Homo sapiens: one gene and its partners. The protein of the gene in region 4 purifies or fractionates together with the protein of the main gene of each other region. This does not show direct contact. Each region holds a gene or a part of one and is shown on either strand. Other genes may lie near its edges.

Region 1 (3,500 bases), on a different chromosome or scaffold from region 4:
CCGAGATCACACCACTGCACTCTAGCCTGGGCGACAAGGGTGAGACTCTGTCTCCCAGGAAAAAAAAAAAGGATAAATGAAAGACAAGAAAAATACACGTGCCATATAACAAAGAATTAACATTCCATAAGCGCTCCTACAGGAGGAAAAAAAAAGAGAAAGAAAAATGAAGCAAGGACATGAGCAGACAATTCTCGGTAAAGGAAATCCAATGGCTATTATACGTATCAAATAAGGCTAGCCCCAGTAACAGGGAAGTTAAAATTAAGACAAACTGCATGACCCATTTATCATCTAGCAGACTAGTAAAAATTAAACTATGTATTTATACCCAGTGGTTTCATGATATGGAGAAGTTACTGCTATTTGGGATGAAAATTATGATAACCTATTTAGAGAGTAATCTAGCAATAATAATATTTAAAATATATTTCTCTGTTAACCCAGAATTCCCCCTTTGGAGACTACAGAAATAAAAGCATCAGCATATAAGGCGGCATGTACAAGGATATTTATTGTAGCACTTTGTTAAGTGGCAAAAATCTAGAAATGATCTAAATGTCCACAGGAAAATAATAAATTATGGTACATCCACGCTATAAGACACAATAGGACTGTTTAAAGGAACAAGATAGAATTATATTTACTGTGGGCTGAGTGCAGTGGCTCACACCTGTAATCTCAGCACTTTGGGAGGCCACAGGAGGCAGACTGCTCAAGTCCAGGAGTTTGAGACCAGCCTGAGCAATACAGCTATATCTCATCTCTTATTAAAAAACTAATAGGCTGGGAGCGGTGGCTCACACCTGTAATCCCAGCACTTTGGGAGGCCAAGGTAGGCGGATCATGAAGTCAGGAGATCAAGACCATCCTGGCTAACATGGTGAAACCCAATTCTACTAAAAATACAGAAAATTAGCGGGGTGTGGTGACAGGTGCCTGCAGTCCCAGCTACTCGGGAGGCTGATGCAGGAGAATGGCGTGAACCCAGGAAGCAGAGCATGCAGTGAGCCGAGACTGCGCCACTGCACTCCAGCCTTCGTGACAGAGCGAGGTTCCATCTTAAAAATAATAATAATAATAATAATAATAAAAAATTATATTGGCTGGGTGCGGTGGCTCACGCCTGTAACCCCAGCACTTTGGGAGGCCGATGCAGGCAGATTGCTCAAGCCCAGGAGTTCGAGATCAGCCTGAGCAACATAGCAAAATGTCATCTTTTAAAAAAATAATAATAAAGAATTATATTGCCGGGCACGGTGGCTCACGCCTGTAATCCCAGCACTTTGGGAGGCCGAGGCAGGTGGATCACGAGGTCAGGAGATCAAGACCATCCTGGTTAACATGGTGAAACTCTGTCTCTACTAAAAAAAAAAATACAAAAAAATTAGCCGGGTGTGGTGGTGGGCGCCTGTAGTCCCAGCTACTCGGGAGGCTGAGGCAGGAGAATGGCGTGAACCCAGGAGGTGGAGCTTGCAGTGAGCCGAGATCGCACCACTGCACTCTAGCCTGGGTGATAGAGCAAGACTCCCCATCTCAAAAAAAAAAAAAAAAAGAATTATATTGGCCAGGCACGGTGGCTCACACCTGTAATCCTAGCACTTTGGGAGGCCAAGGTGGGAGGATCATGTGAGGTCGGGAGTTCAAAACCAGCCTGACCAACATGGAGAAACCCCCCCGTCTCGGGTCGGGTGCGGGGGCTCACGCCTTTAATCCTAGCACTTTGGGAGGCCAAGGTGGGCAGATCACGAGGTCAGGAGATGGAGACCATCCTGGCTAACATGGTGAAACCCCATCTCTACTAAAAATACAGAACATTAGCCAGGCGTGGTGGTGGGTGCCTGTAGTCCCAGCTACTCGGGAGGCTGACGCAGGAGAATGGCGTGAACCTGGGAGGCAGAACTTGCAGTGAGCTGGGATCGCGCCACTGCACTCCAGCCTGGGCAACACAGCGAGACTCCGTCTCAAAAAAAAAAAAGAAAGAAACCCCATCTCTACTAAAAATACAAACTTAGCGGGGCATGGTGGCACATGTCTGTAATCCCAACTACTCGGGAGGCTGAGGCAGGAGAATCACTTGAACCTGGGAGGCGGAGGTTGCGGTGAGCTGAGATCACGCCATTGCACTCCAGCCTGGGCAGCAAAAGCAAAACTCCGTCTCAAAAAAACAAAACAAAAATGAATTATATTGGCTGGGCGCGGTGGCTCATGCCTGTAATCCCAGCACTTTGGGAGGCCAAGGCAGGCAGATCACTTAAGGTCAGGAGTTTGATACCAGCCAGGCCAACATGGCGAAACCTCATCTCTACTAAAAATACAAAAATTATCTGGGTGTGGTGGCAGGTGCCTATAATCCCAGCTACTCTGAAGTCTGAGGCAGGAGAATCACTGAACCCAGGAGGCGGAGATTCCCACCACCTGGGTGACAGGGTAAGACTCCATCTCAAAAAAAACAAACAAACAAAAAAAAAGAATTATATTTACTGACCATGACATGTTAAAAAAAAAAAAAAGCGTGTCATAGAGTAATATAAATAATATGATCTCTCTTTAGTAAAAACAAAAAATTCCTATGTACACTTACGTGAGTATGTACAGTACTTAACTAAGCATTGAGAGAAATATTGAAGCGTAAATTCATTCATAATCTGTTAAAATTTGGGGTTAAAATTAAGACTGTCATAGAACAGATGATGTAACACTACAGGGTAAACACTATAGGGTAAACATCCCTAATCCAAAATCTGAAATTCTCCAAAACCTGACATTTTTTGATTGTTGACATGATGCTTGAAGAAATGCTCTTCAAGGCCGGGCGCGGTGGGTCACGCCTGTTATCCCAGCAGGGGAGGCTGAGGCGGGCAGATCACAAGGTCAGGAGATCACGACCATCCTGGCTAACATGGTGAAAGCCCGTCTCTACTGAAAATACAAAAAATTAGCCAGGCGTGGTGGCGGGCGCCTGCAGTCCCAGCTACTCTGGAGACTGAGGCAGGAGAATGGCATGAACCCGGGAGGCGGAGCTTGCAGTGAGCCGAGATTGCGCCACTGCACTCCAGCCTGGGCGACAGGGCGAGACTCCGTAACCAAAAAAAAAAAAAAAAAAGAAAAGAAAAAAATGCTCTGCAAGTGTTTCAGATTTTGGATTTTAGGATTAGGGATGTACAAGTGGTGTAACGCAAATATTCCAAAATCTGAAAAAATCCAAAATATGAAACATTTCTGGTCTCAAGCATTTCAGATAAGAGATACTCAATGTGTATTTGGTTGAAAGAGCTAACTTATATAAATGATTATACAGTTGTACAACTCAAAGTAAAAGGAGTTCCATTAGTGTTTTTACAGCTCAAGTTAGTGAACCTATTTAACTAAACCTCAAAACTAAACAACTGAAAAAGTGTTCAGTCTTAAAAGGAAGCAAAAGAAGCGTTTTTTACTTACCTCTTTTTTTTGAGACAGTCTATCTCTGTCACCCAGGCTGGAGTGCAGTGGCACAGTCT
Region 2 (3,500 bases), on a different chromosome or scaffold from region 4:
AAGTATATTTTGTCTCTGAGGGCCTCCTGTCTTTGGACTAGTTTGTCTTTTTCCAGACCCCAGAAAGGCTGGGCCACCTTTTCTTCTTTGAGCAGGTTGGCAACAGTGGTCACAAATAGCAGAGGAGCTGAGATTCTAGAGAGCTATCCTACCACTGCTTCTCAGATGCCAGTGTGGAAACAGCCTCTTCTTTTTTGTTGAATTAGCTTGGAACAGCTCTCTAATCTCTGAAGAGTGAGGAAAAACTGTGTTTTTAAGTTTCAAGGCTAAGGCACTGTGTTCTCTTTTCTCCCTGTTCCTGCTGCTGTTCTCCCCCAACTCACATGAACGCATACTTAACTTTCAGTGTATGTGGACAGTAGGGTTGCTAAATTCATGTCAATATTTGTGGCATTCCTACATGTTAGGCATTTGGTTTACATTTAACTTATGAAACAAATGTTTAGGCTTTTATAAGCCAGGAACTTTTCCAGATATTGGCAATAATGAACTTTTCAGAAGTTACAGTCTAATAGACAGGCAAACTATTCCCATAGCATGCTATAGTAGCAACATGTAAAATGTGCTGTGGAACCACAGACTATTAAAAGCCTAAGTTTTGGGAAATCAAGAAAGCCTTAGGGATGTTTAGTGATGAATGCATAGGTTAGTGGAGGAAACAACTTGTATCAACTCAATTTGAGAAGCTTAGCTGTGAATAAGAGGAGAGAGAAATAGATTTTAGTAGGGAGAAGTTGGGTCAGGAAGAGTGTGTGTGTGTGTGTGTGTGTGTGTGTGTGTGTGTGTGTGTATTTAAAAATCCAGTCAATGGAAAAAGGTTGAAGATGCAGGCAACGTCCTTGTTTTGTCCTTGGCAAGTTCCTCTTATGGTTGCAAGATGGCTGCCACAAGTTCAAGTGTCACAAGAAAATATGACTTAAGTTTCCTGGAAGAAGACACACTTTTTTTTTTTTTTTCCTAGGTTGTTGCTATCAGTGAGAAAAATTTTTCCCTAAAGCCTCATAGCAGATGCTACCTTGTCCCTCTCTCCTCTCTTCATAGGTCAGCATTGCACACAAGCCAGTGCCTAAATGAGTCAAGGTCAAGGGGAATAGTACCGCTGTGATTGGCATAAATGGATCGTGATTCATCTTAGGTTGTGGCTGGGGTCTACTTCCTTGGAAGTTGATGGCCTCGGGTTGAGAGTAGATACGTGAGCACAGTCAGGGTTTGGTTAGAAAGTGAGGGGGTGAATGGTGTTGTGCAGTTAACAGTGACATCCTTGTCTACTAGTTCTGCCACCACTACACTTAGATACAAACTTCGGAGGAGAAAAAGAAAATGTGCTTGCCTTTGGATTTGGAATTTTAGGTGACTTTTTTTCCTCTTATATGCCATTTCCTTCTATGATCAAGTAGCACTTTTACAATCAAATCAAATCAATGGTTTATTTAAAAATTATTTAAAAATTGAAAATGCCAATTTTGTCAATAAATATATATAGAAGAAATAATTTTTTTTTTCAATGCTTTAAACATTTCAAAAGTTCCCTGCCATTGTCTTATTCCTTTCAGGGAGAGGAGAACATATAATTATATCTTGTAGTTTCTGATTATGTGTATACTAAGAGGACTACTCTGTCCCTCAGTCCATAGTGCACACCCACCTGTGGTCTCTATGGCTTGCACTGAGTGCTGAGGCCAGCCTGGCTCAGATAGAATTGTTAGTTCATTGGCTAGATGGGTCAGGATTCTTTAGAATGCAAATTCTTGAATCAGGAGTACAAACAGGAACATCTTCCCTTTTCTACACACTCATTCCCCTCCTCGAAGGGAAAGCTGTCCCGTAGTTAGCTTATTCGTCATTCTTTTCAGACTTTAAAATTAATGCCACCTTAAGTTTATACAGTATTCTTGTAGTACTCCTAACTTTTCTGTTTTGCTGTATGTGTACATTGTAGAAAGATTAAATCAAGCTAATTAACATGTCCATTACCTCACTTACCTTTGTGTGTGTGTGTGTGTGTGGTGAGAACCTTTAAATCTACTCTCTTAGCAATTTTGAAATACAGTAGGATCCCCACCCACTGTTTTACTTTCAGCAGTTTGTTACCTGTGGTCAGATGAAGTCCAAAAATATTAAATACAATAGATATTTTGAGAAAGAGACAAACATCACATTCACATAACTTTTATTACAGTATATGGTTATAATTGTTGTATTTTATTATTGTTAATCTCTTACTGTGCTTGATGAAAAAGCATAGTATATATATAGGGTTTGTTACTATCTGCAGTTTCAGGTATCCACTGGGGTTCTTGGAATGTATCCCCTGTAGATAAGGGGGACACCTGTGTATGTTGTTACAAGTATGATCACTGTGTAAAAGCACTTTTGTATTTCATTCTTGTTCCTTCTCAATCGCAGGTCTGGGTGCTTTCTGTGCTGTGAAAGGCAGACAAATAATGTAAATCCTAAACACTTGAGTGTTGTAAATTTACAAAATGAGAATTGCTCAATGGTTGTTTCTTTTTGAGAGTAACAAATAGACTGTGATAAATGGCCAGAGTAGGCTTCTGAACTGGTATTAGTTTTTTGGATAGAATTTAGAAAGACTTGTACTACCAATATAATTTTTGTCTCAGATAAATGCAATAGTATTTCCCTACTCAGTAGTTCCTCAGATGCTATTTAAACTGAGCTATATTTCAGCTTTATTTATAGGCTGCAAATTGTTCCTTATTTGGCTGAATCTTGTGGTTATGATATAATGAAAAGTAGTTACTGAGATCACTGGTGCAAATCTGTAGCTTGGAAATCCTCATTTTAGAAATGATTATTTTGACTCCCAAGTTAAATAGTAAAAAATAGACTTATGTTTTTAGTTTTAGCTATGTATATTGAGAAACTGTGGCCCTACGGTGGCTGTTAGGGATTAGTGGATTAGGTTGTTTTTAAATAAGACATTTCAGTTTAGTATCTCTACTTGAATAAAACAGTTTCAAATTTGTGATTCATATGATATACTGATTGCCCTACGGTAACTTCTGTTTTATTTAATTAAAATTGTTAACATTCTTTTTTATACTCTTAAGCACCTCCCTCCACCCTCACCCCCCTTTTTGACTCAAATTTTATTGTGAGTTGGTGTATAGTTAGGAATTTGAAGAGCACTTTTTTTGTTTATTTTATCTTTTCGGTTACTATGCATACTATGTGTGTCAACTCTTAAACCTGCAGGGGGTCATTTTGGCCATCAACTAGTTTTAGGGCTTTCGCCTCCTAAAGAATATGAATTATGGTTGTAATTTTTACAGTTTAAAAAACAAGATGGCATATGAAGAATCTTTATTTCATTATGAAAATAGAACATGGATGCTTAATCCTCTGTATTGAAAGTAACTTGTAGTGAAATACTTCCTAGTGTTCTCTTCTTCTAGTTGTCCATATGTAGTATGTATAACTATAGACCTTGATGATTTAAGTTGAGCACAGTTTAGTGTCAGGTTCCTTTCAGTGAT
Region 3 (3,500 bases), on a different chromosome or scaffold from region 4:
ATAGATACAGCACAACTGCCCTCTGAAACACTTATATAATTTTTACAAACATCACCTCTGGATAGGTCCCCTTCTTGCAGCCAACTTACATGAATAAACCACAGAAGATTCACTATGATGACTGTAGGAAGAGGATGGAATCGGGGTCTAAAGTGAGCTTGTAATGAGTGGTGTGGGAGAAGCTGGGCATCCAGAAGTGGGTCGTCTTCAATACTCTGGGTGATATCCAAGGAACCCTGGGGTGCAGAAAAACAAGCAACCTATAATCACCACTTTCTAGATTATGTTTCTAAGACAAATCTACTAAACTACAGAGCTTTTTAACCACATACAAATTAAAGGCAAGAGAACACATTGCCTACCTGAATCCAATTTTTTAAAAATTAATTATTAATTTAATTTAATTAATTAAAAAATTAATTAATTTTTTAAAAACTGTAGCAACACGGTCTCACTATGTTGCCCAGGCTGGTCTTGTTTGTTTGTGTTTTGTTTTTTGTTTTTGAGACAGTCTCGCTCTGTTGCCCAGGCTGGAGTGCAGCGGCGCAATCTTGGCTCACTGCAACCTCTGCCTCCCAGGTTCGAGCAATTCTCCTGCCTCAGCCTCCTGAGTAGCTGGGACTACAGGTGTGCACCACCACACCCAGCTAATTTTTTTTTTTTTTTTTTTTGAGATAGAGTTTCACTCTTGTTGCCCAGGCTGGAGTGCACTGGCACAACCTTGGCTCGCCGAAACCTCCACCTCCCGGGTTCCAGCAATTCTCCTGCCTCAGCCTCCTGGGGTAGCTGGGATTACAGGCATGCACCACCACACCCGGCTAATTTTTTATTTTTAATTTTTAGTAGAGATGGGGTTTCTCTATGTTGGTCAGGCTGGTCGCGAACTCCTGACCTCAGGTGATCCGCCTGCCTCGGCCTCCCAAAGTGCTGGGATTACAGGCATGAGCCACCGTGCCCGGCACACATCCAGCTAATTTTTGTATTTTCAGTAGAGGGAGGGTTTCACTGTGTTGGCCATGCTGGTCTCAAACTCCTGACCTCAGGTGATCTACCCACCTCGGCCTCCCAAAGTGGTGGGATTACAGGCATTAGCCACAGTGCCCGGCCCCAGGCTAGTCTTGAACTCTTGGCCGCAAGCTGCAATTCCAGCTACTCGGGAGGCTGAGGCAGGAGAATCACTTGGACCCAGGAGGTGGAGGTTGCAGTGAGCCGAGATTGCGCCACTGCACTCCAGCCTGGGCGACAGAGAGACTTCGTCTCAAAAATATGGATATATACTGCATTGTATATACTTTTAATTTGCTAAGAGTGTAGATCTTAAGTGTTCTCATCACATGTTAAAAAAAAGAAAAAAAGAATATGGTTCATGGGAAGCACATAACAAATCAGCAAATGAAAAGCATAGAAGACAATGCCAAAAAATTTAGGTCAGCTAACTGCACTACAATGAGACAGAAATGAAGGATTCATGAATAGGTTTTGGCTACACAGAATGAGAGCTCTTTATTTTGGAAGTAGGTAGTAGGACAAATGATGTAAGAGATGGCTGTTGATTGCTAAGATTACAAAGATAAGGACAGTAATCTAGGGTGTAACCTAGCTCTGGAGTGGGCTCCTCAATTTCCAGTAGCAGGTATTCAACACTGCTCTGCAACTGTTTTTGTTGTTTTGTTTGTTTGTTTGTTTTTGAGATGGAATCTCGCTCTGTCGCCGAGGCTGGAGTGCAGTGGCTCAATCTCGGCTCATTGCAACTTCTGCCCCCTGGGTTCAATCGATTCTCCTGTCTCAGCCTCCTGAGTAGCTAGGATTAAAGGCACGCGCCACTATGCCCGGCTAATTTTTGTATTTTTAGTAGAGATGGGGTTTCGCCATGTTAGCCAAACTGGTCTCAAACTCCCAACCCCAGGTGATCCGCCTGCCTCAGCCTCCCAAAGTGCTGGGATTACAGGCATGAGCCACCGCGCCTGGCCAAGTCTTTTATTCAATGCCTAGATTGCTTCCTGTTTAGTTTACCATAACTCATGGTACAATTCAGATTACTCCTGTTCTCTTCAAGACCCCTCTGCCTCTAGCTCATTCTCAGTCAGCAGATGTTGGAGCCTTGAGATCTGCTCTTCCCTTAGCTAATGTCTGTGCATTCTTTCATGCTCAGAAGGGGCAATTCCCACCACAGGGCCTTTCTGGATACCCCTAATCTGGATTGTGCCACCCTCCATGTTTTTCAAAGCATTCTGTGCTTGCCTCTTCTATCAAACTATCCTGTGATGGTCTCTTACTTATCTCTTCTCCACTAGACGTCATTGGACCCATTACCTTTACACCTCTTGTCTTTGTAATCCCAGCACTCAACACTATCTCATGGTTGTCACTCAGCAAACATTTGCTAGATGAATGAATGAGTGCCCCAAACCTGTTTCTGCAGTATTTTCTAATTCAATTATGGGCATCATCAAAGACCTGGGCTAATTAGAAGAGATTATCAGGACATACGGGGGATCAACTGTGACCAAAGGCAGTAAGAGCTGTGGTTAAGGTCAGGCTCCTAAGGGCAAACTGCCTGGATTCAAGCACAAGTTTTACCGCTTTCTAGCTGAGAGCAAGTTACTTCATCTCTCATGCCTCAGTTTCCACATCTAAAAAGGAGACTAATAATAGCACCTGCTTCGTAGCTCTGTCAGGAATACTAAATGAGTCACTACACATGCAAGTCCTCATGACACTGCCTGACGCACAGAGAGCACTCAATAAGTATTAGCCACTATTATTTCTTTATTAACTCTTTTCTCTTTTTAATATTTTTTAAATTTTAAAATAAAAATCAACAGGGTCTCGCTATGTTGGCCAGGTTGGTCTTGAACTCTTAGCCTCAAGCAATCCTCCCAAGTGCACTCCCAGTGTGCTAGGATTACAGGTGTGAGCCACCACACTTGGCCTTTTTATTAACTCTTACTTTTGACTTGCACCCCGCTATGGTCTAAATGTTGGTGTCCCCCAATAGTTCCCTGCTTTCCTTTGGGAAGTAATTAAGCCATGAGGGTTCCCCCCCTCATAAATGAGATCAGTGCCCTTATAAAAGAGGCTTGAATGAGCTCCCTTCCACCTTCCACTGCGTGAGGATGCAGCAAGAAGGCGCCATCTTTGAAGCAGAGAGCAACCCCTCCCCAGGGCTCTTGGCACCTTGATCTTGGGCTTCCTGAATCCGTGGCTGCCTTAATCTTGGACTTCCTGTCCTCTAGAACTGTGGTCAATACATTTCTATTTGTAAATTACCCTATTTGTATTTTACTATAGCAACCCAAACAAAGACACTACCCCTATAATCATTACCATTCTATCCACTCAGTGCTGGGGCATGATAAAAAGAGAAAAAATCATTACCATTCTAACTCCTAAACCTGTTATTTCCTCTCTATTCTCACTATCTTAGTCCAGGCCCTCCCATTTCTCATGGCCTTTTATTAGAAGCTTCCAGTCTTCTGGTCTTGGCAATCTCTTTCACT
Region 4 (5,866 bases):
ATTTTTGATTATATAAAATAATAACTGGTAAAACTGGTCTCTTACAAAGGTATAAAAATATATTTAAGGTTCTTAAAATGAGTAATAAGTGTGGACTTACCGTAATTGGGTAAAATATACATATTGAGTGGTACCATCAGCAAAACGACGCATCCCAGAACAATAAAAGGCACTTCATAGCCAAAGGATTGATACAAAAAGCCACCTACAGGAGGACCTAGTATTAGCCCCAGTCCAGAAAAAGTCTCAAGACTTCCCTTAAAATGAGAAAAAGAAAAAATCAGTTTAAATATTTCATTTGAAGAATTAACATGGTACTATCTTTAAAAAAATTTCTATCTTCTTCATAATTTACATACACACACTCCCAAGATGGCCCCAAAATTTAAATGCACATATTGAAATCATAAAAATATTAGAAAAATAAAATATGGGAGTTTTAAAAAAATTGTTATTGTAAGGAAGGTATTCTAATTGTGACATAAAACACAGAAGATAAAAAAGATTGACAAATCTGATTACATGAAAATACGAAAACTATGCATAAAAAAATCAAAAGATAAATGAAGAACAGAGAAAAAAATGACAAAGAACTAATTCCCCAAATACATCATGAGAGCTACAATGAGGAAAAGATAAACAACCCATAGAAAAATGGGCAAATGCTATAAATTATTGACATATAGATGGAATACAAAGATCTTTTAGAAGTTCACCCTCACTTTTTAAAAGAAATGAGCAAATTTGAACCACAAGATACCAATTTTCACCTATCTCTATCGAACACTCTATGCTAGTGAGTGAACACCGGTAGGCAATTTGGCAATTTGGCAATTTGGCAAATTGAGGCACATACCTTATGACCCAGAATTCCACTTCTAAGAATTTAACTTACAAGTTTAGACATGCAGATATGACATGGTATGTATACAAGCTTATGTGCTATAGCAGAGTTTTGCAATAGCAAAAGATGAAAATAATCTAAATATTCATCAACGATGTAAGTAAACCAGGTTATATCCACGCAGTGAAATACTATACAGACAGTAAGAACAGTAAAGAGTAAGAAAGCTCCTTATATGTAGGTACAGGAAGATCTCCAAGATGATTTCATTGTTGGTGTAACCAGTGAGGTGCTGAATGGTACATATGGTATTGCTACCATTTGTGTAAAGAAAAAAGAGGGATACTGCAATAGTCCTGTCCAGTTAAAAAAAAAAAAAAGGAAAAGAAAAAAGGGGGAGGGAAATCATGCTCTCTTGTTCTCGTGCTCTCTCTCTCTCTCAGTGTGTGTGTGTGTGTGTGTGTGTGTGTGTGTCAGTGTGTACATATATATATGTGGAATTTCTCTGCAAGAAACCTGCAATATCTGTTGCCTTCCCCTAAGGGGATGGAGGGCTGGGCACCTGCACAACTGATGTGTATACAAAGGCTGAGCAACTGTTATATGTAGAATATATTTACTATATTCTATGTTCCCTTCTGTAACTTTTGAATTTTGTACCATATAAAATTATTCTGTTTAAAGTTAAACAAAACAATGCTATGGAAAAAAAGGGTTTACCACTATAGATATTGCAACATTTTAAATCAATCTAGTTTTTAGGGACCTTAAACAGAGATCTGTGGCTTGCAGCCTTATATCCTTAGACCTTATAGAGTACACAAAAATATACCATTAATAACTTTCAAAACTTCATAAAGAACATTGAAATTCTTTAATCACAATAAGCCATCCAGATCAATTATCACATTAGTGTGTTAGCTGTTGGCTGCAATTTTATACAGAAACTTGGTACAGCAACATTGGTGTCTCTTGCTGATCAGAAAATCCAATGGATTGTTACCATTATCATAGGAATTTATTAAGTGGCACTTTCCAGAGTGTTCCACAGAATACCAGCTCTTTAAGAGATCAACAAGTCTTGTTTGAAAAAATAGTTACAGCCAGGTGTGGTGGCTCACATTTGTAATCCCAGCCACCTTGGAAGGCCAAAGTGGGAGGATTGCTTGAGGCCAGGTGTTCAAGACCAGCCTGGGCAACTCAGCAAGACCCTGTCTCTACAAAAAAAAAAAAAAAAAAAGAAAGAAAAAAAGAAAAAAGAAAAGAAAGAAAAAAAATGGTTCCATAGTTAAAGTGAGTTGTGGAACATTTAATAAAGTATCCCTACTCCAGGATTTTCAAGGTCTAAAGACATTAATGTGAACTGGGCATCTCTAAGTTAGAGGACAGCAGACAGCCCTCTCCAAACTTGCTTAACCATAAACCCTTATCTTAATGAGCATATCAACAGACGGGTGTTCTTCTGAGCCCTTTCTGAGAAATAAATTTTCTGGAAATGTAAATGGTATGCCGGCCAAATGGCAATAGAACCTACCATAAACCTATCCAGCTATATACATAAATGCTTAATAAAAAGTGGGAAGAACGTGCCGGGCACGGTGGCTCACGCCTGTAATCCTAGCACTTTGGGAGGCTGAGGCAGGTGGATCACGAGGTCAGGAGATCGAGACCATCCTGGCTAACATGGCGAAACCCCGTCTCTACTAAAAATACAAAAAAAAATGTAGCCGGGTGTGGTGGCGGGCGCCTGTAGTCCCAGCTACTCGGGAGGCTGAGGCAAGAGAATAGCGTGAACCCGGGAGGCGGAGCTTGCAGTGAGCCGAGATCGCTCCACTGCACTCCAGCCTGGGCTACGGAGCGAGACTCCATCCCCCACTCCAAAAAAAAAAAAAAAAAAAAGGTTGGGGGGAAGGACTATTTACACCACAAAGGGTTTATCTGATGGTAAAAATTTTCAAACTACATTGTTACATGAGTAAATGAGGGAGTCCTCGGTACTAAGCTGATTAGACTCTGAAGTCTAAGAGAACAATTACATGCTATAAGGGCGCCATACCGACTATGATATGAAGTGCGTGGGCCCAGAGAGAGAGAGAGAGCTACGAGGGGAAAGCCTTCTTGGGGATCAGAGAGGCAGCTGCCTAGAGATGGGATGAGAATCTGATATGTCACTAATACCAGGTCTATACGCATCTAGGCAGTACACAAAAACGCATGTCAATATCATGCCACCAGGATCTGGATTTTTATGTCAAAATGCAAAAGCACTCCTCAGACAGACAGCACAGAAACACTTAAGGACTTTGAGATGATTTCTAAGATCCCGTGCATAAATCTGGGGAAAGTGGAAGAAGGCCTTTAGTATGAATTGATTATTTTGCCACTAGGGATAACTCTTTTCTAAAGCAGAGGAATGCTTCAGGCAGCTCAGCCACAATCTAGGCTACGGGGAGACAGCAAAAAAACTACAAAGGAAAATTTTTTTTTTAAGTGGTAAAAAGAACGACTGATTTGGACCACATTTACCTGTCAAACTGCCCATTCAGGGAATTCTAAAACCAGGAAGAGCACCTAAGTGAAACCAATGTTACATTTATTGACAGGCTTGCTGCTAGTCAAACTCGGGGTGAAAGGCAACAATAATACAGAGAGTAGAGAAATGCAAGTATAGAAGAATGGACCCCAGCTTTAACTTGGAAGGGCAAATATTTTGGCCTACACTCAAAGGAAAGTGGGAAATACTTCTAAAATACATACCAATACCGTAGCCACGTTATTTGGAAAAGCCTTTGCCAGGATAGAAGAAGATGCAGTCATTGCTGCAGCAAAGCTAACTGCATCCATTACTCTCACTAGAAAACACATAGCAATAAATACTGGCCCATCTGGAACTCGGTCCAATACACTAAAAAGGAATAAGACAATTCTGAAATGCCAAGCTGGTTTTCTTTTTTTTTTTTTCCTTTTTAACTGTACTCACTAAAAAGAATAGTACCTCACTCATGGTTTTTAGAATAAACCGCTTTAGAATATGATTTTTTTAAAAGAGTTGCTTTGTTGTCTTTTCAGGAGGAGGAAATTACCCTTTTTCTTTTTTTGGTAACCATTTGAGTCATAATGACAGCTTAGTCGCCCTTTTCTGCTGATATAACTGGTCCCCCAGATAATAGCACTAAATAAACTTTTTTGGAATATGTAGAATCAGCTGGGCGCAGTGGCTCACGCCTGTAATCCCAGCACTTTGGGAGGCTGAGGCAGGCAAATCACGAAGTCAGGAGATCGAGACCATCCTGGCCAACACGGTGAAACCCCGTCTCTACTAAAAATACAAAAAATTAGCCAGGTGTGGTGGTGGCCACCTGTAGTTCCAGCTACTCGGGAGGCTGAGGCAGGAGAATGGCATGAACCTGGGCGGCGCAGTTTGCAGTGAGCCGAGATCGTGCCACTGCACTCCAGCCTGGGCGACAGAGTGAGACTCTGTCTCAAAAAAAAGAAAAAGAAAAAAAAAAAAAGAAAAAGAAAACACATAGCAATAAATACTGGCCCATCTGTAACTTGGTCCAATACACTAAAAAGGAATAAGACAATTCTCAAATGCCAAGCTTGTTTTCTTTTTTTTCCTTTTTAACTGTACTCACTAAAAAGAATAGTACCTCACCCATAATTTTTATAATAAATTGCTTTAGAATATGATTTTTTTTAAAAGAGTTGCTTTGTTGTCTTTTCAGTAGGAGGAAATTAACCTTTTTCTTTTTTTGATAACAATTTGAGTCATAATGACAGCTTAGTTGCCCTTTTCTGCTGATATAACTGGTCCCCCAGATGATAGTACTAAATAAACCTTTTTAGAATATGTAGAATCAGCCGAGTGTGGTGGCTCACGCCTGTAATTCTAGCACTTTGGAAGGCTGAGGTGGGTGTATCCCCTGAGGTCAGGAGTTCGAGACCAGCCTGGCCAACATGGCGAAATCCCATCTCTACTAAAAAAGTGCAAAAATTAGCTAAGCATGGTGGTGAGCCCCTGTAATGCCAGCTATTTGGAAGGTTGAGGCAAGAGAGTGGCTTGAACCTGGGAGGTGGAGGTTGCAGTGAGGCGAGATCACACCACTGCACACCAGCCTGGGCAATAGAGTGAGACTCCATCTCAAAAAGAAAAAAAAAAAAAAAAACATGTAGAATCACTCTGACAAGACCTATAAAGAAGAAAGCACCCAGTTTCGATCTCTCCCGTAGTCAGACTGAAACCTTCAAAAAAAAAAAAAAAAGGAATAAAGAAAGAAAATAAACGACCCTTCCAAAAAAATTTTAACCCCATTTCATTTAATATAACAGTTTTCTTCAGTTTACTTCATTATAATCTTACTATACTGGTATTCCTCTATGTTCCCCCATGTACTTATATAAGCTCTTCCACATTATTTGGAACTTTCACATCTGTTTTGCCTCTGGCACTCATTTTTCCTTTTTCTGGAAGTAGCAATGGGGGAAACCATTTTGTTCCATGCTCTGAACTGAGCATGTGACCTGGCCTGGCCAAGCAGAACATTCTTTCCCCATGGCTACAGCCATCAGCAAAGGTCAGGCCAGCGGGGCTTCATTCTGTGACTCTAATAGGAACTATTAGGAAACTGGCACTTTCTACTGAAGCTGCTAGGGGTCCCCTTGCCACCTAAAGGGGAGGGCTTGTTCAAATCACAAGAAGAAAAATTTCTCGTGACATCGTTTCAAATCTGTATTCTGATATTTTTTGAGTTGACACTTTATTAAAGAAATTCACTTTTTTACTGAAGCTAGTAAGTTTCCGTGACTCAGAAAAGTGAGTTAAGTTTCTGTCACTCACAATCACAGGAATTCTAATGAGTAGGTTCAGTAGCAAGCATCACGGAGATCCCCCGGAGGCCTGTTTCCTTAAAATCAATGCCATTTATCCCTGTTCTCTACTTACTCAACTCCTGCCATTAGTCACATGCTATGCATTTGACAGACAATAAATGGAACCATTGACTTAAAGAGTATTTAACA

What was found.
Region 1: the proteins of SLC18B1 (region 4) and AP1G1 purify together in Homo sapiens (affinity purification with mass spectrometry; one large-scale study listed by BioGRID and IntAct). This does not show direct contact.
Region 2: the proteins of SLC18B1 (region 4) and BACH1 purify together in Homo sapiens (affinity purification with mass spectrometry; one large-scale study listed by BioGRID and IntAct). This does not show direct contact.
Region 3: the proteins of SLC18B1 (region 4) and TMEM192 purify together in Homo sapiens (affinity purification with mass spectrometry; one large-scale study listed by BioGRID and IntAct). This does not show direct contact.

What each region holds. Positions count from the first base shown.
Region 1 is NC_000016.10:71,798,835-71,802,334, forward strand, and holds part of AP1G1 (AP-1 complex subunit gamma-1), read right to left. Parts: intron 1-3,500. UniProt on the Homo sapiens protein: Subunit of clathrin-associated adaptor protein complex 1 that plays a role in protein sorting in the late-Golgi/trans-Golgi network (TGN) and/or endosomes.
Region 2 is NC_000021.9:29,305,422-29,308,921, forward strand, and holds part of BACH1 (transcription regulator protein BACH1), read left to right. Parts: intron 1-3,500. UniProt on the Homo sapiens protein: Transcriptional regulator that acts as a repressor or activator, depending on the context. Binds to NF-E2 DNA binding sites. Plays important roles in coordinating transcription activation and repression by MAFK.
Region 3 is NC_000004.12:165,102,861-165,106,360, forward strand, and holds part of TMEM192 (transmembrane protein 192), read right to left. Parts: intron 237-3,500; coding exon 90-236; intron 1-89.
Region 4 is NC_000006.12:132,783,833-132,789,698, forward strand, and holds part of SLC18B1 (MFS-type transporter SLC18B1), read right to left. Parts: intron 3,750-5,866; coding exon 3,602-3,749; intron 258-3,601; coding exon 101-257; intron 1-100. UniProt on the Homo sapiens protein: Proton-coupled polyamine antiporter involved in the translocation of polyamines from cytosol into secretory vesicles prior to their release via exocytosis.